Linked DNA regions of Homo sapiens: regions 1, 3, 4, 5 and 6 are each linked to region 2. Evidence: fine-mapped expression QTL. A gene starts in region 2. Each other region holds a variant in brackets. All regions are shown on one strand. Distances are from middle to middle. Region 1 holds the start of MIR4494 (microRNA 4494). Region 2 holds the start of PCED1B (PC-esterase domain containing 1B). Region 3 overlaps LOC105369747 (a long non-coding RNA gene). Region 4 holds the start of PCED1B-AS1 (PCED1B antisense RNA 1). Region 5 overlaps PCED1B (PC-esterase domain containing 1B). Region 6 has its middle 12 kb from the start of LINC02416.

Region 1 (4,090 bases), 280 kb before region 2:
TTAATTTCACTCTCTGATCCTTAGTTTCCTCGTTGGTAGAATGGGACTGGCCCTGGTGCCCCTGCTACATGGAGTCTGTGGGATTCAATGAGAAGATTCCTGGCCTGGCGTGGCTCATGCCTATAATCCCAGCACTTTGGGAGGCCAAGGTGGGTGGATCACTTGAGGTCAGGAGTTTGAGAGCAGCCTGGCCAACATGGTGAAATGCTGTCTCTACTAAAATACAAAAATTAGCTGGGCGTGGTGGTGCACACCTGTAATCCCAACTACTCGGGAGGCTGAGGTAATAGAATCACTTGAACCCAGGAGGCTGAGGTTGCAGTGAGCCGAGATTATGCCACCGTGCTCCAGCCTGGGCAACAAAGCAAGACTCTGCCAGAAAAAAAAAAGAGAAAAGATGCGTGTAAAAGGGCTGACTGCTGAATCCAACTTAGTCACTACTCAGTAAATGTCAGCTACTACTACTATTATTACTGAATTTCTTTTTGGAATGTTGATAGAGAACCATTACCACTTAAACCTGGGGAATTTTTCCTTGCTGTGGAAACAGGGCTTGACTTTCTAAAGATTGTGCTCCCCTCTCATGATGATTGGTGACTTCGTTTACTCATTTATAACATGTTCTGAACATCCACAACTTTGGTCCGTTTTTTTTGTATATGCAAATTTTTTGAGATATAGATTGAATGGTAGAAATGGAGAATTAATATTTGCATGAAAGGATTAATAGTTTAAAATCTTGTTTTTAACCATAAAGCAACACATTCATAAGCTGTAAAACTTACAAATGGGTATGAAATGTAAACGCCTACCTCCTTACTTACAAATCCATATTTAATGTAATTATAGCTGAAGATAATCATAGCTATTATTTCTTTTTTCTCAGATATTTGTATGTATATACATACATGTATATAAATATATGTATAAACGTGATTCTAGGAATTTTCACTTATAATGATATTGTATTCTACCTTTTTTTCCTACTTAAAACAGTTTAGTTTGGATACTTTTCATATCAAGACATAGAAATGCATTGGTTCTTTGGAACAGCTATGTAATATCCCATTTTACAGAGCCACTATAGTTTATTTAATCCTCTCTTGATGGGCATTTAAATTTTTTTTTTTTTTTTTACTATTACAAATAATAGTATCATGCTACTCCTATACAGTATATATTTGCCGCCTGGTGAAAGCGTTTCCTTGGGAAAAATTCCTGAAAGGAGAATTGCTGAGTTTAAGAGAATGTGCTTGTTAAATTTTAATAGTTATTGCCAAATTGCTTTCCAAAAAGTTGTAGCAATTTACATTTCATTAATAATACATGAGTGGTCCTGTTTCCCACACTCTTGAGTAAGATCAACATTTTACAGTAGTTCTCCTTTATCCATGGGATTATACCATGCTGCACAATTTAAAATGTATAAGTTGTTTGTTTCTGGAATTTTCCATTTAATACTTTGTTTTCTGAAGTTTTAGTTACCCTGGTCATCTGCAGTCTGAAAATACAAAATGGAAAATTCCAGACTGTGGCTGACCAGAGGTAACTGAAACCTCAGAAAGTAAAACCATAGAATGGGGTTGGGTGGGGTGGGTGCAAGCTCCA[G/A]TATTTTTGCAAAATATACAAAGTGAAAAACAGTATCTTGTTTTAACTTACATTCCTTGATTTTTTTAGATAGCTAAAAATGTTATGTGTTTATTGGCTGTTTGCTTTGTTTTTGTTGCAAACTTATTTTTCTATTGAATTGTTCAGTTTTCTGTTGCTGATTTTTTAATTGCTTTGTATATAAAAGAAATTAACCCTCTTCCTGTTATATAAATTGCAGACTTTTTTTTTCTATCCTGTGGTTTATCTCTTGACTTTACGGTATTCTAGTCTTGAAAAAGTTTTAACTTTTATATAAGTAAATTTATCAATCTTATCTTTTATGTCTGTCACTTTTCCCCAGTTAAAAATTATGAGAAAAAGATCAATGATTTTTCCAGTATTGTTATGGTTTCATATTTTACATTCAAGTTATTGATCCACATAGAATTTGTTTGGGCATAAGATACTTCTGCACTTTTTCCCCCAATGGCATGTTCATCACAACATTTCTGAATTATTCATATTCTCCCATTAACTTTAAAATACCACCTTATTTATATTTTATTTTATTTTATTTTTTTGAGACAAAGTCTTACTCTGTCACCCAGGCTGGAGTGCAGTGGCACAATCATGGCTTACTGCAGACTTGACCTCCAGGGCTCAAGTAATCCTCCCACCTCAGCCTCCCAAGCAGCTGTGACTACGGGCATGCACCAGCACACCCAGGTAATTTTTATATTTTTTGTAGAGACAGGGTTTTGCAATGTTGCTCAGGCTGGTCTCGAACTCCTGAGCTTAAGTGATACACCCACCTCAGCCTCCCAAAGTGCTGGGATTACAGGCCTGAGCCACTGCACATGGCCTTATATTAATATTAATACTTTAAGTTCTTAAAGGTATTTGGGTCTGTTTCTGGGGTCTTTATTCTCCATTAACAGCTTTCTTATTTCTTATAATTTCTCTACCTATAAAATATCTTAATATTGGATAAAACTATTTCTTCATTATTTCATTTACAGTTGTATTGGCTATTCTCACTCCTCTATTATTCTACAAGACCTTTACAACATTTTGTCAGTCTCCAAAAAAATCCTATTGATATTTTGATTGGAATTACAATTGCTTCAGGGAAAAGAAACTATATTGTTTCATTCACTCCTATCTTTCGGGTTCCCATATTAATCAGGATAGGATGGACTGTTGCAAGAATAATTAAATTTTCAAATCCCAGGGTATTATTTCAACAAAATTTTGTTTCTCACTCATGTAAATTCCTGTGCAATTGGGCCACTCTCCAGGACAGGGGTCCTCACTTTAGGGGCCCCACTGTCCAGGCTGTTTTGATCTTACAGCTCTGCTCTCTCAACATGCTGAGGACGATGGAAGAGATAACTTCCGGTCCTGTCTAGTTAGGTGGAGTGGTAAAACCAATCCTGGTCAATGGACTTTGAGTAGCAGTGATATGTCTCACTTCAGGATCAAAGCTTAGAAAAGCAGGTGTGAATTTTCCCTGTGATCTTTTCCTTTGTTGGTCAATTTCGGAGCCCATGACTTGAGATGACAGAACCAGCGACAGAAATCTTTTCAATAACTGAGCCACTTCATCACACAGGGCAGTTGCCCAGGGAACTCACCTGACTCACATCAGACCCACAGCTTTATTGTATTAAGGCCACTGAGATTCCAGGCGAAAGTTGCTACTGCAATGTGAAAAAACTTATCCTGACTGGAAAAAAAAAAAATGCTGAGGCCAGTAGTGGTAAGCTGTTGAAAAAAAATTAAAATACTGGCTTAGCAGTCAGCTGATGACAGAGAGGAAACTGATATCAGATGCTGGGAAGAAGGCAACACATTTGGTAAAGGTTTTGCTTGTGATTACCTTGCAAGACCATTCACCTATTGTACTGCTGCTATTATATATGTGGTTGCTTCTGGTTGTGTTTGGCAAAGTACTGGGAGGGAAGAGAGAGAGAGAGAGAAGCAACTCCAGAAAGAAATGACCAGTTTATAATGAATAATAAAAGGGAATAAAGATAATCCAAAAATTTGGAGTCTTATAAATTTGAAAAAACCAACTGCTTTTAGATTCAGAATCTGAAGAGTTTAAAGGCTTTGAGTAAAAAGTGCTAGGAAAAAAGAAAAAAAATATATATATATGTATATGTATACACACACACACACATAGATACATACATACATACTTGTGTGTGTATCAGTTGATTAAATGCCTCAGGGCAAAGGTTAGATCAACTTTTACAACTTGTTAAAACTTTAGAGGATTAAAATTACTTAAATCGAGGTCCTGGCCACGAAGGTGCGGGGGAGAGGCAGAGGGAGGATGTTTTGAGGACAAGAAAGCACAAGAATGAAGCAGAAATAAAAGAAGTCCCTCAAACACAATTCTAAATATGGTTATTTGCTCATGGAAATGTCTGGAAGCAGATAGATGGGGCCTCCTGGTTTTTGAGGTAGTCGTTCAGTAGTACAAAGAAACTGTAAG
Region 2 (4,090 bases):
AGTGAAAAGGTGCGCGGGGGAGGGGAGGAAGAGTTGGTTGTCCTCATCATTTTTATTTTTAAGTAATATTACAAGTTATCTATCCTGCCCCAACTGTTTCCTCAATTTGGTTGCTTTTCATTCCACTGTGGTTGGCATCTTTTGTCAAGGCAGTAATTTATTTCTTTTAATCCGGATATAATGGCCAAATGGGCGATCTGACTCACTCAAATCCCATCGTTAAAACTTATCTTGGAATTAAACAAAAATGGATTTTTAATCGTAGAGCTCATCAGCCTCATAGTCTCCACCTCATTTCTGAATGGCCTTGTTCGGCTTGCACCTTCTGTGCTTGCTGAACCAAAGCGCGCTGGTCGGCCGCGGCATCTCCGGAAGGGATGAAGAGCCTCCGCGCACACGCCCCTTACTTCCCTGTCCCGCACGCGCCACGAGCACGCTTGCAAAAGACGGGGAGGTGGCGGGGACAGAGACAGAGGAAATGAGAGAGAGAGAACGAAAGAGAAAGGAGAGAGAGGGAGAGAGAGAGGGAGAGAGAAGAGGGGAAGGAGAAGAGAGAAAAAAGAAAAAAAGGTCTGCTCTGGGATTATTATTATTATTTGGGTTAATACTCTTATCTTTGCATTCCAGCCGGAAGGTCGGCTCCAAGCCTTCTTTCCTGCCCTCCTCCTTCTTGAATTGGACACCATCCCTGTTGCCGCCTCCTGAGTCAGGAAAGGGATAGAACTTTCCCAGGGAGGTGAGGGGTGTCCCCGTGGCGATTTCCCGGTTACTTCCTCCCAGCAGATATCCCTGTGGAGAGGAAACGTTCCCGACTTCCCTCCCCGCGACCTCCTCCCTAGAAACGAGCGGAGACGTCAGGCTGCTTCTGGGTTTATTTTGTAAACCCAGACAGTCAACTGCACTTGGCGCAGGCAAAGCCTCCTTGGCCCTTGCCCCAAAGCAAAGCTCTAAGAGGTCCGGGGATTCCTTGGCCTGGGTGGGGAGAGAGACGTGACCTGTGCGGCCGCCGCGAAGTGGGTCTCCAAGGGTGAGACCCCTCCCTCGGTGGCTGGGCGTGTCCCCTTTAGCCTTCCTGGACCCCATTACCGCCCGGCTTGGAGCTGGACGAAGGGACGTAATTGGTAGGCGAGTGGGTTGGGCATCTTGACTCAAGGACCAGAGTCTGGGCCTCTGGTGTGGACCCCTGCCCCCTCCCCGCTCTGCGCGGCCGTTCTAGAGGTCCGGGTGGGAGCTGGAGGAGGAAAGCGGGAGGAGGCGGCGAGGCCGCGGGGCGGTATGAGGGGGCGCCGGCCGCCTCTCGGATTGGCTGCGCCGCCGCCCCCTCCGCATCGCGCGCCCCCCACCACGCGCCCAGCCTGCTCCCTCCCGCAGGCTCCGAGCTGCTGCCCGCAGGAGGCAGGACGCGCAGGGGTGGGACCGGCGCCCCAGCCCGTCTCCCGGCCCCGGGCGCGCGGGAACCCCGGGTCCTGCAGCCTCCCGAGTGCGGAGAGGCGGGGCCGCCCGCTGCCGCCCGGCTGCCTGCGCCCCCTCCCGCGGCCCCGGCTCTGGGAGCGGGGCGCCCCGCGCGCGGGCACACGGCGGCCAGAGCGCCGAGGCGGTACCTTCAGCCTGCAATGAGAGGAACCCGGGAGAGCCCCCGGGAGCCAGCGAAGAGCTTGGCTGCTGCGTCCAGGGCTGCTGCTGCCGCCGCGGCTGCTTGAAACTCCTCAAAGTTGAGAGCCGGCTAGAGGGTGCCGCCCGCCGGGAGCCGGAGGGAAAGGAAGTCGGAAGGTGCAAGAGTGACAGACACGGACAGACGGACGCGCAGACCTTCGGAAGGCACTGCGTAGGCAGCCTCCCCGGAGCCCACGAGGCTCCCCAGCACCGTGAGTTTTTTCCTGGATGGGTGGTTGCTAAGTATTTCCGTTTAATTGTTTGTAGCGTACGTTTGCGTATAGTTGTGTCTGTTGGAGGGAGTTTAAAACAACAACAACAACAACAACAACGCAGGATGCACCTTAGGAAAAAATTGAGTTTCTGATGGTGGGTGAGACGGTGGGTTGTATGGAGAGAATGTGACTGTACATTTTTATAAGCAGGACTAACCCAGGAAAGAGGAAAAAATACATTTAACAGTGAAGAGGCAACACAGAGCTCCCTATTGTGAAATAAAACCCATTTCAAAAGTTATTGGAAAGAAAGTAAGGTATGGCTCTTATGGGTTAACTAGTGGTAGTCAGTTTCTGCTTTTTACTCCCTCTGAATTATTAATTGTTTGCCAGGTTCACTGGTGGGAGGCTGAGCCGGTGGAAAAGACACCGGGAAGAGACTCAGAGGCGACCATAATGTCGTTACGTGTACACACTCTGCCCACCCTGCTTGGAGCCGTCGTCAGACCGGGCTGCAGGGAGCTGCTGTGTTTGCTGATGATCACAGTGACTGTGGGCCCTGGTGCCTCTGGGGTGTGCCCCACCGCTTGCATCTGTGCCACTGACATCGTCAGCTGCACCAACAAAAACCTGTCCAAGGTGCCTGGGAACCTTTTCAGACTGATTAAGAGACTGGACCTGAGTTATAACAGAATTGGGCTTCTGGATTCTGAGTGGATTCCAGTATCGTTTGCAAAGCTGAACACCCTAATTCTTCGTCATAACAACATCACCAGCATTTCCACGGGCAGTTTTTCCACAACTCCAAATTTGAAGTGTCTTGACTTATCGTCCAATAAGCTGAAGACGGTGAAAAATGCTGTATTCCAAGAGTTGAAGGTTCTGGAAGTGCTTCTGCTTTACAACAATCACATATCCTATCTCGATCCTTCAGCGTTTGGAGGGCTCTCCCAGTTGCAGAAACTCTACTTAAGTGGAAATTTTCTCACACAGTTTCCGATGGATTTGTATGTTGGAAGGTTCAAGCTGGCAGAACTGATGTTTTTAGATGTTTCTTATAACCGAATTCCTTCCATGCCAATGCACCACATAAATTTAGTGCCAGGAAAACAGCTGAGAGGCATCTACCTTCATGGAAACCCATTTGTCTGTGACTGTTCCCTGTACTCCTTGCTGGTCTTTTGGTATCGTAGGCACTTTAGCTCAGTGATGGATTTTAAGAACGATTACACCTGTCGCCTGTGGTCTGACTCCAGGCACTCGCGTCAGGTACTTCTGCTCCAGGATAGCTTTATGAATTGCTCTGACAGCATCATCAATGGTTCCTTTCGTGCGCTTGGCTTTATTCATGAGGCTCAGGTCGGGGAAAGACTGATGGTCCACTGTGACAGCAAGACAGGTAATGCAAATACGGATTTCATCTGGGTGGGTCCAGATAACAGACTGCTAGAGCCGGATAAAGAGATGGAAAACTTTTACGTGTTTCACAATGGAAGTCTGGTTATAGAAAGCCCTCGTTTTGAGGATGCTGGAGTGTATTCTTGTATCGCAATGAATAAGCAACGCCTGTTAAATGAAACTGTGGACGTCACAATAAATGTGAGCAATTTCACTGTAAGCAGATCCCATGCTCATGAGGCATTTAACACAGCTTTTACCACTCTTGCTGCTTGCGTGGCCAGTATCGTTTTGGTACTTTTGTACCTCTATCTGACTCCATGCCCCTGCAAGTGTAAAACCAAGAGACAGAAAAATATGCTACACCAAAGCAATGCCCATTCATCGATTCTCAGTCCTGGCCCCGCTAGTGATGCCTCCGCTGATGAACGGAAGGCAGGTGCAGGTAAAAGAGTGGTGTTTTTGGAACCCCTGAAGGATACTGCAGCAGGGCAGAACGGGAAAGTCAGGCTCTTTCCCAGCGAGGCAGTGATAGCTGAGGGCATCCTAAAGTCCACGAGGGGGAAATCTGACTCAGATTCAGTCAATTCAGTGTTTTCTGACACACCTTTTGTGGCGTCCACTTAATTTGTGCCTATATTTGTATGATGTCATAATTTAATCTGTTCATATTTAACTTTGTGTGTGGTCTGCAAAATAAACAGCAGGACAGAAATTGTGTTGTTTTGTTCTTTGAAATACAACCAAATTCTCTTAAAATGATTGGTAGGAAATGAGGTAAAGTACTTCAGTTCCTCAATGTGCCATAGAAAGATGGGGTTGTT
Region 3 (4,090 bases), 220 kb before region 2:
CAGGCTAGTAAGTTTGTAGCACTATTATTACACAGATAAGTAATGATACCGGAGTGCTGGGAAGGGAAGAGGGTGGTCCCTGGCTGGGCCTCTACCCCCAAGGACCTAGGTGAGGACGGTACTCCTGTCTTGGTGCTCAAATGTTGCATTTCCCAAAACTACCCTGGCCTGCCATGCCCCCATCCTGTGCCTATAGAAACCTCCCAGACCTAGCAGGCAGACACAGAAGTGGCTAGACGTCCACAGGAGCACATGGGCGGAGGCACACACAGGCGGCTGGGTGTCAAGTGGAATGCACTGGCACAGGCAATCCAGCAGGCACCCCGATCCGCAGAACAATACGGAGTTTGGCTGGGGCAGTTGGAGGAGAGCCTCGTTGATGAGCGGCCCAACTCCGGGGGAGAACCGTCTCCCTTCTGGATCCCCCATTTGCTGAGAGCCACTTCCACTCAATAAAACCTTGCTCTCATTCTCCAAGTCCACGTGTGATCCAATTCTTCTGGTGCACCAAGGCAAGAAACCCCGGGATACAGAAACCCCGGGATACAGAAATCCCTCTGTCCTTGTGATAACGAAGGGGGTCGAATTGAGCTGATGAACACAAGTCACCTATAGACGGGAAACTAAAAGAGCACCCTATAACACATGCCCGCTGGGGCTTCAGAAGCTGTAAACAATCACTCCTAGACACTGCCCTGGGGTCGGAGCTCTATATAGCCTTCCCATCTCCATTCTCCCTTAGAGGTTTGAGCAGCGGGGCATTGAAGAAGCGAGGCACTCCCCCGTCACACACCCTGTGAGGGGGACGAGGGAACCTTTCCCGTTTCGGTAATACAGAGCACATATTAATAATGGCCAGAAAAGAAAAGCAGACAGTGAAAATTTTGTTTTGTTGGACTTCATATTTATTATCATGCCAGTAAAAAAATTAATAATAAAAAAAGAATAAATAAATAAAGGCCAGGTGCGGTTCCTCATGCCTGTAATCCCAGCACTTTGGGAGGCTGAGATGGGTGGATCACCTGAGGTCAGGAGTTTGAGACCAGCCTGGCCAGCATAGTGAAATCCTGTCTCTACTAAAAATACAAAAAAAAATTAGCTGGGCCTGGTGGCAGGCACCTGTAATCTCAGCTACTTGGGAGGCTGAAGCAGGAGAATGGCTTGAACCCAGGAGACAGAGGTTGCAGTGAGCCGAGATTGTGCCATTGCACTCCAGCCTGGGCAACAAGAGCAAAACTCCGTGTCAAAAAATAATAATAATAATTAATAAATAAATAAGAGATCAAAAAGGAAAAAATTGATTAAATTTTTAAAGCATTAATTTTTTTAAAAAAGAAAAACATATCTATATATTGCTCTGTCACAGGCATGAATAATACTGTAGTTTCTGTTTTTAAGCCTTCTTCAAATTTGTCATTGGCTCTATCAATGGCTTGTTCCTTCTTGCGTGTTCATGTTAAATTCAGAGCATAGCAAGATTTGTCAATTTATATTTGCCTACAGTTGATCCTTACATAGGGATATGTCATACCATGGGGCTTGAGCCTGCCAACTGTACCCAAAACTTGAATGACTCTCAACTATAACAAATTTACTTTTGAAACAAACAT[G/A]TATAGTCATGTCCACTTGTGTCAGGGCCAGCTGTATAGCTAAAGTTCCCTGAATTAACTTCCAAGTAGAATGCCATCATTTTTCTTAAGGGTTAAGCAATAAAATGTGCTAATTTAAAATGTGCATATTCATGTTTAAAGCTCAAAAGTGACTGTGGCAACTGTTTAGAACTTAGACCAATAGAAAATTTGTTTTTGTTTTTTTCCTTGGGGAAGAGTATTCCATCACTGATGTTGTTTAGAATTCCTGCTGCATAGTGATAATAAAAAGTAGCCTGAATATTAGTCTGAATGTTTTATTATTGTTGGTCTGTACCTGGGGCACACTCCATGAATCCTTGGTGCACTGTGGTGAAAGAGACAGAATAATGAGGGGTGCTGAATGTGCAGGGTGCCCAGACACGGTGTCTCTGATGAGGTCATGTTTGAACAGAGACCTAAAGGGACACAAGGAAGGAACCGTGAATCTACCTGGAGAGAATGATTCCAGCAAGCACAAAGGTTCTGCCTCCAGAATGTGGGTGGTGTGTTTGAGAAACAGCAAGCATCCCTGTGACTGGAGTAGAAGGACTGAGAAGGATATAGGAGGAGGTTAGAGAAGTAACAAGTTAAGTCAGGCATGGTGGCTTATGCCTGTAATTCCAGCACGTTAGGAGGCCATGGCATGAGAATCACTTGAGGCCAGGAGTTTGACACCAGCTTGGGCAACGAAGCAAGACCTTGTCTTTACAAAAAGAGAAAAAGATAATGTTAGCCGGGTATAGTGGCATGTGCCTGTAGATGGAGTGGGAAGACATGAATGTCTGAGCCATGTGGCTCCTGTTCCCATCACATTCCTTTACGCTGGGTGATGCAGGCTCTGGCCTGGTGAAATTACGTTGGATGTCTAGTTGGAAAACCTTGTTTAAGCCAAGTATTTCCTACTTAATAGACTTCATTCCCCAACGTGGAAAATAAGGATAATATAACCTATCTCACGGGGCTATCATGCTTATTAAATGAGATAATGTTTATGGGAGTGCTTTGTAATCTGTGAAGCATCCTGTCAAGGCGTACTCTTATTATTGTTGCTATTGTAGGTTAGGAAAAACATTCTTCTACCCTCTTAGATCTGTAGCTGGCCTAAGAATGAAACGGACATAAGACAGATTAACAGGAGAAAAGCATACAGACTTCATATTTTCGCATTTACACAGGAGTCTTTAAAAAGAAAACAACAGCCCAAAGAAGCTGTTAGGCCCAAAAGCTTCTATACCTTTTTACAAAAAGAATGACAAATTGTGGGGATATGACGAGGCAAGGAGCTTGAATAAGGGGCAATAAATTGTGGGACAGTGACTAGGAAATATATGGGGGAAACTAATGCAAGATATGGATTATTTTAGTAAGTTTGTTTGTGCATGTCCATTTCTGTGTTGATTCCAAGTCTCTGAAAATAAGAACGTTCTTTTCTCTTGATACAGGGAAGGCATCCTTTCCATGATAAATTTGATCACCTGCTTTTAGGTGGAAAGGAGGGCAGAGATCCCTTTCTGCATCTGCTGTTTCTCAATTTCCTTCAGCTCAAAATAATCAATATGCCAAAGCAGCATATTTTGGGGTGGCATATTCTGAATTCCTTCACTATTATGAGAGGCTGATGTTTAAGTGCTCAAGAATCAGGAAAAACTGAGACATTCAAGAGAAGTGCCCTGGATCCTGCAGCCCTCTTCCCATTGATTTCCAGTTCCTTTCCCACACAACCTCTCCTTCAGCAGGAGGCCTTGGTGAAGGTTGGCAGGCAGGGGCTGCTTCTCATCAGCGTGACAGGAGGTGCATCACCACCCACGGTTAACGGTTAACCAAGCTAAACAGTATAAGATAACCTTCATTTGCAAATCTAATGAGCAAAATTACAGGATTCAACTCTAATAGAGGGGGGAAATGAAGCTGAAGATCATTATTTCCACATCTAAGATTAGCAGCTGGAAAATACAGTACATCTGTAAAATGACGGTGTCAGATACCACAGCTTTGCATGACACCAGCACACACACAAAAGAAGAATCACTTCAGAGAGTAGAAGTAGAGGCGGAGTACTCTAGAGGTCACGACAGATGGACACATCTGAGCATCTGCCACATACCAAACCAGGTTACCATGACATTATGTGTTGAAACTACTGATAAAGGTCTTTGGAAAAAAGTCTACTAATACCCCAAAAAACATGAGCTGTCTTTCCATTCTTTTTCTCTTTCATAGGTCAGGAGGATGTGTTCTGTGCCTGAAGAAATACTCCCTTATATAAATCAAGTTGGAAGGATGGAGATGGAAGGAACAAATGTGGGAATAAAAAATTGGGAAGGAATTCACCTCATGGTTTGACTCTGAAACAAAATTGATAAGAGCCTTTCCCCAAAAGACCCCCTTCTTGCCTGGGAACCAGTCTGCCTTTGCAGGACTAACAAATTAGCTACAAAATTAGAAATTATGGTTTAGGG
Region 4 (4,090 bases), 140 kb before region 2:
AGCACCACTGCACTCCAGCCTGAGCAGCAGAGTGAGACTCCATCACAAAAAAACAAAAACAAAAACAACCTAAGAAATTATTTTCTTTCTTTCTTTCCTTTTCTTTTCTCTCTTTCTCTTTCTTCTTTCTTTCTTTCTTTCTTTCTTTCTTTCTTTCTTTCTTTCTTTCTCTTTCTTTCTTTTTCTTTCTTTCTTTCTTTCTTTTTTTTTCTTCTTTCTCTGTCTCTCTCTCTCTCTCTGTTTCTTTCTTGTCTCACTCTGTTGCCCAAGTTGGAATTCAGTGGCGAAATCATGGCTCACTGCAGCAACTCTGCAGGCTCAATCAATCCTCCCACTTCAGCCTCCCTAGTAGCTGGGACTACAGGCCTGTGCCACCATGCCTGGCTAATTTTTATAGTTTTTTTTAGAGACAGGGTTTCATCATGTTGTCCAGGCTGGTCTTGAACTTAGACTCAAATAATCCACCTGCCTCAGCCTTCCAAAGTGCTTGGATTACGGGTGTGGGCCACCGCACCTGGACTACATATTCTAATTTTCTCCATTTTATACTTTTAAAAATTAAGGCTAAAAGATTGAGTAATCTGCCCAAGGTCATCCATTTTATAAGAAGTAGTGCTGGAAGTAAAACCTGATGCCAAGCCTTTGTGGTCAACCACAACATACAAGATTGCAGACAACAGATGCCTCACGTCCCTTCTCCAGTTCACAACTAAATTGGCTGTTTTCTTTCACTGTCCATTTTAATAAATTTACAAGTTTATCAATCACTAATATTTTTGTTATTGCCAAGCACCAGTTGTCTCTTTAGTGTTACATGGGGTGGGCTGAAGGAGGCTAGGGTGCTGATTCCTGTCTACAGTAAGTGCCCAAAAAATGATGGTCTCAAGAAAGGCTGGTCAGAAATGCCAACTTAAAGTTTCAGATAAAATGGAAAAACTGAAAAGTACTTACTCATTAAAGTAACTGGTGATTTTTAAGCATCTCTCTCAGTTGATTCTAGATCTCGTCCCTAGATAGCTTTCTTCCTCTCCTGTAGATCATTGTGACCAGACGGGAGATCTCAGAGCTTGGGCTATAGGGGAAATAGGTTAGCCTCTGGGTGCTGCTGTGCTTGCAAGCCAGCGTCTGGGGAGAAGATGACATTTCCGGTGGCATCTGGGGCAAACGACACAAGTCAGCATTTAGTTTCTTGCTTTAGGAAGCGGAAGACTAATGACCGAAGCTTCAAGACTTTGACATGTGTGAAAACATGAAATGGTAAGTCAATACAAAGACAGCATCTTCCTGGAATTTGGTTTTGAGCTTGTTTTCATTTCACCTTTCTCAGTAATCTGGGTGTAGCTTATTTTGACTCTTCCTTTGATTAAACAATTCAGACCCTTGGCTCTTATTGTTCTTGCTGGTGTGGTATGTTCACGGCTGAAAAGATGGTCAGAAGGGGAAAGGAGGAAGTGAGAAGAAAGAAACAGGGAAATGGTAAGAAGAACTCTACTTTTCTAAATAATATTTAATAGTAGTAATCTTGTGTTTCTGTGCAAGGTGTTACAGTTTACAAACCGCTTTTATTTTTATTTATTTATTTTTTTTGAGACGGAGTTTTGGTCTTGTTGCCCAGGCTGGAGTGCAGTGGCATGGTCTCGGCTCATTGCAACCTCTGCCTCCCAGGTTCAAGCGATTCTCCTGCTTCAGGCTCCGAGTAGCTGTGACTACATGCACCCACCACCACACCCGGCTGATTTTGTATTTTTAGTAGAGATGGTGTTTCACCATGTTGGCCAGTCTGGTCTCGAACTCCTTACCTCAGGTGATCCACCCGCCTTGGCCTCCCAAAGTGCTGGGATTATAGGGGTGAGCCACCATGGCAGGCCACAAACCGCTTTTAAATCCTTTCACTTCATCTCTCCACTGACGTCTTGATGGAAAAATGGCTCAGTCCACACTACAGGAAACCACAGGCCTGAGCCCCAGCCTCAGCTAGATCCAGTATGTGGCAGAGCAAGATAAGAACTTTCTGCTTCCTCCCTTAGTGTTCCACTTGAAACCAGCAGGTAACTCAAGGGGACAGCGTGCTTAAAAGGGAGATGGTTCGTCTGGCGCTGTGGCTCATGCCTGTAATCCCAGCACTTTGGGAGGCCGAGGCGGGTGGATCACCTGAGGTCAGGAGTTCGAGACCAGCCTGGCCAACATGGTGCAACTCCGTCTCTACTGAAAATACAAAAATTAGCTGGGCGTGGTGGTGGGCCCCTGTAATCCCAGCTACTCGGGGGGCTGAGGCAGGAGAATCGCTTGAACCCAGGAGGCGGAGGTTGCAGTGAGCCAAAATCGTCCCATTGCACTCCAGTCAGGGTGACAAGAGCAAGACTCC[A/G]TCTTTAAAAAAAAAAAAAGGGTGGGGGAGATGGTCTTCTGATTGATTAGATAAGTGTAGGCATTTGTTTTCTTTTGTCTGGAATAATATGATTTCGGGGAGAGGAATATCACTTTCCCTACAAATACCAAGATGAAAAAGAAAAGGAAATAATGAATCAGAAAAAAAAGAGAGAGAGAAAATGCATGACTACAGAAGGTCCCAGTGCATGACTACAGAAGATCAGAATATACCACCCCCAGGTTCCCGTAATCCCAGGTCCTTGGGAGGCTGAGGCAGGAGAATCGCTTCAACCCAGGAGGCGTAGGTTGCAGCAAGCCGAGATTGCGCCACTGCACCTCAGCCTGGGCAACAGCGAGACTCCATCTCAAAAATAAAAAATATGCCACCCCAAAATATAGTTATTTGGCATATTTCGAGCTGATTATTCTGAGCAACTGCAGACACAAGAGTATCTCTGAAAAGCTGTCCTTTTGTAAAATAAATTTATATTTATAAAAGAAATCTACATTAGTCAAAGTATCTGTATCAGGAAGAGTCCTGCTCTCAGACAACTTTTATTACCTGGGGGATTCCAGTGTGTGTGCATATAATTAAAAATGTTTTTTCCTTTTCTTTTCTTTTTTTTTGAATTGAGATTTGGTCTCAATATGTTGCCCAGGCTGGTCTTGAACTCGTGGGCTCAAGTGATCCTCCCACCTCAGCTTCCCAAAGTGCTGGGATCACAGGCATGAGCCACCGAGCCTGGCCAAAAATGTTTTTTTCTCCTGTTAATCTGTTTTATGTCAATTTAATTTGTATCCCAGCCAAAGAACCTAGAAGTAGGGAGGAAGCCATTTTCCCTCCCTTACAGCACAAAATAACTAACCAACAAGAGTAAGAGGTTTCACAACAGTCCTGAATTACATGCTCTGAAGACTTAGCTTTTTTTAATAGTATGCTATTTATGTAAACTGGATTATAATGTGACATAATTGTCTTTCCTTGAAAAATATCATTTTACTTTACATCACTGTCTATTCAGTGTGTGGCTTAAAATTAATTCCATACCTTATGCATTGTTTTCATCCTCTATGGCCATCAATAAAGTTATCTTGCAGTTCCCCATGAGTTTTAGTACAGTCATTACCGGGAAATTTAATAGAATCAAGGCAGAACCCAACTGATAGCTTTAGTATTTTATAATCCAGAGTAGTCTATTACATAACTTTGAAAAATCTGCCATTATTTAGTTCTAGCAATTCTATAAATGAATTGCAAATCTTTCTAGTTCTGTAGATTTCAGCTAGTCTGTGCACTGTGAGAATAAAAGGACAATCTCTGTAATCATCCCAAGACCAGAGAACAGAAGAGCTGTAATAATGCAAATGATAATCACACTTATACTCTTTAAACTTAAAATAAAGTTGAGATCAACAGATTTTCAACTGATTTTCTTGCTTTCAAGAACTTATTATGCTCTATGTAGACAGCTACTATTGCTATTCTGGCCCTATCTCATGTTTCAAAGCTCAGTGAGCCATCTTTTATTTTTTACCCACCAAACTTGGCTTTTTCTTAAACAGTAATGACAACTTATGCACATATAATGTTTTACCCTGTGAATGTGCTTTCACACACAGATATCCTTTACTATTAGCAGCTCATTAGTAGTTATAGCCACAGAGAAATTTAAACTTTGCTTTATGCAAGCCATTACCATTTTATCCACATTTTCTATCTTAA
Region 5 (4,090 bases), 150 kb before region 2:
AGGAGGGGTAAGAAAATGGGCACTTAAAGAGCTGGCTGCTAAAACGGATGTATGTAAATTAAGTACCTGAGACTGTTGGAAGAATCAAGCCAGAGGAGGGAGGTTTATGAACAATCATTGCAACCTGATTCCAACTTCGAATTAAAACAGAATTTTTTTAAAGTTTCATGGTAATTTTAAAAATCATAGTTATAAGTAGTTCCATGTTTTTTTCTGTTTTCAAAGTAAATTTTGGGCTTAGGCTAAAGCTGTCACAGATATATGTATTAATAATGTCTACTGCCACAATAAATTACTTTCCAGCATCTTGTTTATATTTCCCTGTTTGGGGATAATTAATTTTTTAATAGCTTCATAAGCTATGAATTACAACTCATTGACTATTGCTTTACAATGATCACAACCCAAACACATAACATTTATCTTTCATTAATGTTTTGTAATAATTATGTTGATTTTTCTTTTCTTTTTGATCTTTAGTTACAAGAAGAGGTACACTGAAATAAGCCAGTTGCTTTAGAGATACTGTAGAGAAGTTTTAAACCACAGAGATAGTCACTAAAAATTAGGATGTTTTGATTCATTGTGGGAAGTACTTGTAACTAATTTATAAGTTTCTTGCATATGACTATCTTAATACAATATTGTACTGGGAATATAAATGGTTCATTTCCTTATAACCGCATTTTGGGGGATCTAACCAATAGTTTGAACTTTCCAAGATTCTCTTAAATTTTAGTGGAATGGATGGTACAGATAAAGAATTATTTTTAATGAGCTCACCTGTATAATTTATCTATGTCAGCATTTGCTTAGTTTTCTAAGTGAATTTAAACTTGCCAAAAATTATATTACATGCCATATACAGTTTTGAAAGAAAAAAGAAAAGCAAACAATTCGAACTTTTCTTTGGGAAAACTTAGTGACTTGTGGACTGGGGATTCTCTAGAGACTCATATTTTGATTTGAGGCAAGTCAGTTAACATCCAGTGACCTATACAACACCAAAGTGGAAGAAGCAATGCAGGCCTATTTTTAAAAGTGGCTTTAGGATCAAATAAAAAAATACAGAAAAGTACTGAGAGATGCTATGCTGTGGTAAATAATGCAATAGAAAAATAATTGCCAGGCTGGGTGCAGTGGCTTAATTCTGTAATCCCAGCACTTTGGGAGGCCGAGACGGGTGGATCACTTGAGATCAGGAGTTCGAGACCAACGTGGCCAACATGGCAAAACCCCGTCTGTACCAAAAATACAAAAATCAGCTGGGCATGGTGGCACGTGCCTGTAATCCGAGCTACTTGGGAGGCTGAGGCAGGAGAATCATTTGAACCTGGGAGGTGGAGGTTGCAGTGAGCCAAGATTGTGTCACTGCACTCCAGCCTGGGCGACAGCGTGAGACTCTGTGTCAAAAAAAGAAAACGAAAAAGAAAAAGAATTGCCAAATAACCACTGGAAAGACTGTTAACTGATTCGAATCACCTACCTACATTGACCTCACTTCCTACGTAGGTCTCGGATCTGCAGTCCATTAATTAATTCAGTAAAAATTTAGAGAGCCCTGCGTCTATCTACGGCTATGACAGCTGTTACTGCACATTTGGCTCACATCCCTCAACAACAACCATGATTCCCCTGTGAATCCCCGCATCATGAAACCACGCCATATAGCCTGTATTTCTAAGTTGGTTATCCAGGTAGTCTTTAAACACATCTAAAATCATGCGAGATAAGCGAAAAACGGAAACTAGAATAAAGATCTTCAAACTGGGCTCCGTGTAATCACAGGTTTACTTTGTGGAGGAAGGAATCACTGTGGGTATATTCAGTTTGTATTTGTATCATCCCTACCAGGCCACAATCTGAAATTTGTAATTCTTTTTAAATAAACTATCAGCAGAAGAATCTCAAACACTTTGAGTCTGAAAATTACCAAGTTTAAAAATTCTTAAAGCAGTGTATTTTCCCATAATAATAGTCTAATATAAACAACGCCTATGAATTACAGAAAGAAATGCAGAGAGCATTTTTATGAATGAAGTGGTGGTTCTTAGTAACTGAAATGCAGGTAACTTCTGTAAAAACCAAAGATAAAACTATGGACCATTAATTCCAGTGACCTCACTTTTTTAAACTTTTGTTTTACAGCCTTTTGTAAATATTCCCTAAAATAAATAATCAAAGCATTTCATAAACACAAAAGTATGATTTCAATCATGTACAGTCTATAGTAAACCTCTACATGATGGTCTTGCATCATTATTCAAAGTATATTTGCTAACTTCCTACCTATTACCCCTTTAACACAAATGAAAGATACCAGAAGGTGGTGATCTGGCTTTCAACTCCAGACAAAGAAGCCAGAC[G/A]TGGACTCTGCCCCTGGACAGCTGCGTGCTCTTGGGCTGGCTGCCCACAGTTCTGAACCAGTTTCCTCTTCTGTAAAAAGGGAATAATATTACCTACCTCGTCAAATAATAGTGAAAATGAAAAGAGATCTCGTACATCAGGGGCCTAATAATACAAGGCCTGCCAGACAGTAGGCCCCTCTAATCCTTTGGCTCAGCAAGCCCTCCCACAATGATTCCAGAGAAAACACAGGCCTGCAGACAGAACCCTGTTTGGACTCCCTCCTCAAACCTTCAAATCCTCACCCCGCTTCCCACCCTCCTGCAAAGGCAGAGAGGTACCTCCTTAGGCGTAAAGCTTCCTCAGCAGCTCAGGGACTTCGCTCCCGGATATCCCCCAGTGAGGGGATAATTTGCATTCTGCATTTTCTTTACCCTCCTTGGCCTGGATCCTTCTTTTTAGCATTAAACACATTCTAGTTTCTTGCTTTGAAAAAGAAAGGAAACATCTTTGACTCCACCTCCAGGACAGTCCTATCTTTTGCCTCCACTCCAAGGCCACATTTAAAAAAAAAAACTTGCTTGCACTGACTGGGTCTGGGTCTGGGCCCCACCTCCCACTCACTCCTCCGTTTACTTTAATTTGGCTCTGACTGGATCAAAGCCAAGGAATGTTTGTTAGTAAATCACCGATGATTTCCCTGTTGCTCCTTTCAGTGGCCACTTTTTGGTTCTTACAGTATGAGGGGTAGGGGCACTACTGACTGCTCCCTCTGAGAAACCCAGCCCTCAAGTCCACGTATTTGTGACACCCTTGTATCCTGTCTTTCCCTAGTATCTTTTGAGGGTTTCTCTTTCTCTGGCAGTTCCCCAAATGTTGGTCTTTCTCTCTCTCTCTCTCTTTTTCTTATTTCTCCCTCCCTTCCAGGTCTTTCTCAAGGCCCACTGAAGGGCTCTTTTCTTCTCTTCTTCAACATTCTTATCCTCGTGTGTCCACCCATTTTCAGAGTGTCAGGAAATGAGGTAACCCTATGTCCCTATTTGCCCCAAACAGTTCTGGTTTCTGCCTGTTTCCCCAGAATGATTAGTAGCACCCCAAACCCTTAAGAGTCCTGGTTTGGATGGTTACAACGGACCATCCCCTTATCAATTCCCATTTGTATGCAGATGACTGAGAATTGGGGCAATAAAGCACACTGGCTGAGAGGGAGGGGCTCTGGGGTTGGCCCCCTGGGTTTGATCCTGCTCCACTGCTTACTAGCCCTTGAGTCCCTGGGCCTATTAAGCAACCCCTCTGCCCTGAAGAAACCTCATCAATAAAATGGGAACAATATTACTGCAGTTTTCCTAACAAGTGAGGGTTAAATGAACACATGTAAAGTTATTAGCATGACACCGCCACATTTCTAAGTGCTCAGTGAATGTAGCTATTATCTTTGTCTCTAGCCCAGACCTGTCTCCTGAGTTTCAGACATATTCAGGTAGAGAGAATAAAGTTATCTGGGGTTGGAGGGGTAGGAGGTAGGAAAAGCAGTCTATGCAGGCCCCTATCACTTCCCAATTCTCTCTCTTTTTTTTTTTTTTTTTTTTTTGAGATGGAGTTTTGCTCTTGTTGCCCAGGCTGGAGTGCAATGGCGTGATCTCAGCTCACCGCAACATCTGCCTCCCAGGTTCAAGCGATTCTCCTGCCTCAGCCTCCCAAGTAGCTGGAATTACAGGCACGTGCTACCACGCCCGGCTAATTT
Region 6 (4,090 bases), 260 kb before region 2:
CGTATAGAATTGTGGAGAGTTATTATTTTTCCCTTCTCTCAGCAGTTTAAACATGCCAATTTGTCTCCAGACTTGCATGGTTTCTGAAGCCTGCCATAATTCATTTTTTTCATTTTTTTATTATTATACTTTAAGTTCTAGGGTACACGTGCACAATATGCAGGTTTGTTACATATGTATACATCTGCCATGTTGGTGTGCTGCACCCATTAACTTGTCATTTACATTAGGTATATCTCCTAATGCTATCCCTCCCCCAACCCCCCACCCCATGGCAGGCACCGGTGTGTGATGTTCCCCATCCTGTGTCCAACTGTTCTCATTGTTCAATTCCCACCTATGAGTGAGAACATGTAGTGTTTGGTTTTCTGTCCTTGTGACAGTTTGCTCAGAATGATGGTTTCCAGCTTCATCCATGTCCCTATAAAGGACATGAACTCATCCTTTTTTATGGCTGCATAGTATTCCATGGTGTATATGTGCCACATTTTCTTAATCCAGTCTATCATTGATGGACATTTGGGTTGGTTCCAAGTCTTTGCTATTGTGAATAGTGCCACAATAAACATACGTGTGCATGTGTCTTTATAGCAGCATGATTTATAATCCTTTGGGTATATACCCAGTAATGAGATGGCTGGGTCAAATGGTATTTCTAGTTCTAGATCCTTGAGGAATCACCACACTGTCTTCCACAATGGTTGAACTAGTTTACAGTCCCACCAACAGTATAAAAGGGTTCCTATTTCTCCACATCCTCTCCAGCACCTGTTGTTTCCTGACCTTTTAATGATTGCCATTCTAACTGGTGTGAGATGGTATCTCATTGTGGTTTTGATTTGCATTTCTCTGATGGCCAGAGTGAACGGGCAACCTACAGAATGGGAGAAAGTTTTTGCAATCTACCCATCTGACAAAGTGCTAATATCCAGGATCTACAAAGAACTTAAACAAATTAACAAGAAAAAATCAAACAACCCCATCAAAAAGTGGGCGAAGGATATGAACAGACACTTCTCAAAAGAAAACATTTATGCAGCCAACAGACACATGAAAAAAGGTACCGCTATCTTTTTGTCATGGTGGGAAATGTGAAATTATCCAGGAATGGCATCTGTGACAATAAAGAAGATGAAAAGATGATTCCTAGACCAAAATAGGAAGAGATGATGTCTGGATATTTGCCCTGATTTGACAATAAATAAATATGTAAGCATCTCTTCTACTCCTTTCTACCCATTATTCTGAATTTTTATTGATAAATCACTATACTTTCCAGAGCCCACACAATTTGTAAAGCATTTTCAATAAAACTGTTTAGTTAGGCAAGGCTTCTTAAAATGTATACATATATTTTCCTTGCTTTGCAGATGGATGCCTCCCAGAGCCACCTGCACCCGTCATGGTCAATCCCACTGTGTTCTTTGATGCCATCATCAACTTGGGCTGTGTCTTCTTTGAGCTGTTTGCAGACAAAGTTCCACAGACAGCAGAAAATTTTGTACTTGAGAGCTGGCGAGAGAGGATTTTGTTATATGGGTTCTTACTTTTACAGAATTATTCCAGGCCTTACGTGCTAGGGTGGTGACTTCATGCCATTATGGCGTTGGTGACAAGCTTATCTACAGAGAGAAATTTGATGATGAGAATCTCATCCTGAAGCATACAGGTCCTGGCGTGATGTTCATGGTAAATGCAGGACTCAGCACAAACAATTCCCAGTTTTTCATCTGCACGGCCAAGACTGAGTGGTTACATAGCAAGCCTGTTGTCTTTGGGAAGATAAAAGAGGGCATGAATATTGTGGAAACCATGGAGCACTTTGGATCCAGGAATGGCAAGACCAGCAAGAATATCACCATTGCCAATTGTGGGAAATGCTAGTAAATTTGACTTGTTTTATCTTAACCACCAGACCATTTTTTCTGTAGCTCAGGAAAGCACCCTTCCACCCCATTTACTTGCAATATC[C/T]TATAATCTTTGTGCTCTCACTGCAGTTCTTTGGGTTCTATATTTTTCCTATCCCCTTCACATCTAGCTGGATTGCACAGTTAAGTTTATTAATTATGAAATAAAAATTAAATAACAATAAACAATTTTCCAGGGGCCCTATATATCCCACATAGTAGCAGCTCTGCTTGGCTGTGACCCTATGTTTGAGAGTTAACAAGTATTAATTGATGCACTACATACGGTAGTATCATGTTCTGTCAAATGCTGTTATTCCAGCCCCAAAAAACTGTATAAGGCAAACCTTGCCTTAAGAGCCATGGTCTTGCTGGTAATACAGAACTTACCCATATGAAACATATCAGGAGATACATAAAATTAGATATTATATGGTGCCTAATCAATTAGATGTAACTTTAAACATGGTAGACATGGTTAATGCTCAGGATTGAGGGAGGGTCAAGCTCAGTCTGGGCTGGTGTCTCAAGGAAAGCTTGGTGGCACTTGATGTAGCCCTGAGGCACATGCTGAACTTGGACAGGCTCAGAAGTGTGCAGAAAGCTGGCAGGGTGTAGGGGGCAACAGTAGGAATATCTTAGGGAGGAAGCCTCTCTATTGAGAGTCAGACTTGGGGGCATTCTGAACTAAAGAAGGTGCAGCCTCTGCTGTTTCTTGGAACTAGGCTCTTGAGCTATTAACAGCAGAAAAACCACCCTGCGGGGAGAAGTGGCAAGCTATCAGGACACCCTTCACTACCCTGTGAATAGGAGACACTGACGGAATGCATTTTGGGGCGGAAATCTCTCACTGGAAATAATCTTGGTGATTTCTTTAACGTCAGTATCTCGACTCAGACTTAGCCCAACAACTACATTCTTGCCACACTCTCTCCATCTTCTTCAGGTCGTCTTTCTGTCGTGCTGTCTTAGGAACAATTTCTGTTCTTGCCTGTTTGCCATCTAAGCCCTCACCTCATTCTCTAAGCATGAATACCAATTTTCACCTTGCACTTTTGCCAAACCTCAGCTCAGTGTTGACTTGAAGCCAGAAGAACTGTGACTGAGGCTGAATTTGCCACTTATTTTCTCTATAACCTTGGGCAGGGCACTGTGTGCCTCAGAACTTCTATTTCTCTGTTTGTAAATGAAGATAATGATGCCTTGCGACTTACTTCATGGGGGTATTTTGAGGAGAAAATAAACTACTTTAGTTTAAAATAATAATACCTAATAATAATGATAATAATAATAATATCTAATACTTAAATAGAACTTATTCTATGTCAGGCAATCTTCTAAGTGCTTTAGATATATTAATTATTTTAATTCTCACCATAACCCTGTGAAGAAGAAATTATTATCACCATTTACAATGAGAAAGTTTAGGCATAGAGAAATTAAGTAAAAATAACACAATTGTTAAGTGTAAGAGCTGAGATTTAAACCTTGGCAGTCCGGTTCCAGAATCTGTTCCCTCAACAACCACATTATATTGTTTATCTAATAATAAGAAGAACTAACACTTGTGTAAGGCTTACTACATGCCAGATACTATTCCAATGGTCCAATTAACTTACTTAACTGTCACAATAGTCCTTTGAGGTATCTGTGAGGAAGATGCTGTTATTACCTGTATTAAAATGCTCTGTGAAGACTTCCACATGTAGGAAGGCAGAATAGATGTACTTTCCTTATTCCTCCTACTAAGTACAAAAGAAAACCCTGTCCAGCATACATAAATCAAACACAGGGAAACTCTAAAAGGTGAGATAAGAAGGTAGACTGACTAGGGACCTCAGAATCGAAGAAACAATATGTTGGTAAGCTCCCTGGTTTTTTGTTTTCCCCTCATACAACTCAGACTTGGAGTTGAAGAAGGTAGCAACCTGAAAATGCCAATGGGTGTAAACAAACAAAGAAACAAACAAAAAAGCCCCAACAAAAACTTGCTCTCTCTAGCCAAAAGAAAGGACCAGGCTGGGCCGGACAGCTCAACACCTATAATCCCAGCACTTTGGAGGGCCATGGCAGGAGGATTGCTTGAGGCCAGGGATTCAAGACTAGCCTGGACAACACAGCAAGACCCTGTCTAGAGAGAGAGAGAGAGAGAGAGAGAGAGAGAGAGAGAAAGGACCAGGAAA

What was found.
Region 1: its variant is fine-mapped to the expression of PCED1B in whole blood (INTERVAL, PIP 0.95).
Region 3: its variant is fine-mapped to the expression of PCED1B in esophagus mucosa (GTEx, PIP above 0.99).
Region 4: its variant is fine-mapped to the expression of PCED1B in whole blood (TOPMed, PIP 0.99).
Region 5: its variant is fine-mapped to the expression of PCED1B in whole blood (TOPMed, PIP above 0.99).
Region 6: its variant is fine-mapped to the expression of PCED1B in whole blood (INTERVAL, PIP 0.95).

What each region holds. Positions count from the first base shown.
Region 1 is chr12:47,361,653-47,365,742 of GRCh38, reverse strand. The region is part of intron 1 of LINC02416 (long intergenic non-protein coding RNA 2416); the gene reads right to left. It overlaps MIR4494 (microRNA 4494), which reads left to right and starts at 1,474; the gene lies at 1,474-1,557. The variant G/A (reference allele first, on the strand shown) is at 1,609.
Region 2 is chr12:47,077,237-47,081,326 of GRCh38, reverse strand. PCED1B (PC-esterase domain containing 1B) reads right to left here and starts at 1,706. Exons shown (of 4, transcript NM_138371.3): 1 at 1,602-1,706. It overlaps AMIGO2 (adhesion molecule with Ig like domain 2), which reads left to right and starts at 1,368. Exons shown (of 3, transcript NM_001370299.1): 1 at 1,368-1,865; 2 at 2,079-2,185; 3 at 2,262-4,090. The coding sequence starts at 2,325. The coding sequence ends at 3,893.
Region 3 is chr12:47,301,834-47,305,923 of GRCh38, reverse strand. LOC105369747 (a long non-coding RNA gene) reads left to right here. Exons shown (of 2, transcript NR_135024.1): 2 at 1-7. Among named protein-coding and RNA genes, the nearest start is that of LINC02416, 50 kb to the left of the region's middle. The variant G/A (reference allele first, on the strand shown) is at 1,611.
Region 4 is chr12:47,213,551-47,217,640 of GRCh38, reverse strand. PCED1B (PC-esterase domain containing 1B) reads right to left here. Exons shown (of 4, transcript NM_138371.3): 3 at 952-1,419. It overlaps PCED1B-AS1 (PCED1B antisense RNA 1), which reads left to right and starts at 1,198. Exons shown (of 3, transcript NR_026544.1): 1 at 1,198-1,257; 2 at 1,377-1,476. The variant A/G (reference allele first, on the strand shown) is at 2,366.
Region 5 is chr12:47,222,270-47,226,359 of GRCh38, reverse strand. All of the region lies in intron 3 of PCED1B (PC-esterase domain containing 1B), which reads right to left. Among named protein-coding and RNA genes, the nearest start is that of PCED1B-AS1, 7.9 kb to the right of the region's middle. RefSeq lists enhancers at 2,729-3,459, 3,460-4,090. The variant G/A (reference allele first, on the strand shown) is at 2,367.
Region 6 is chr12:47,339,402-47,343,491 of GRCh38, reverse strand. It overlaps the pseudogene PPIAP45. Among named protein-coding and RNA genes, the nearest start is that of LINC02416, 12 kb to the left of the region's middle. The variant C/T (reference allele first, on the strand shown) is at 1,972.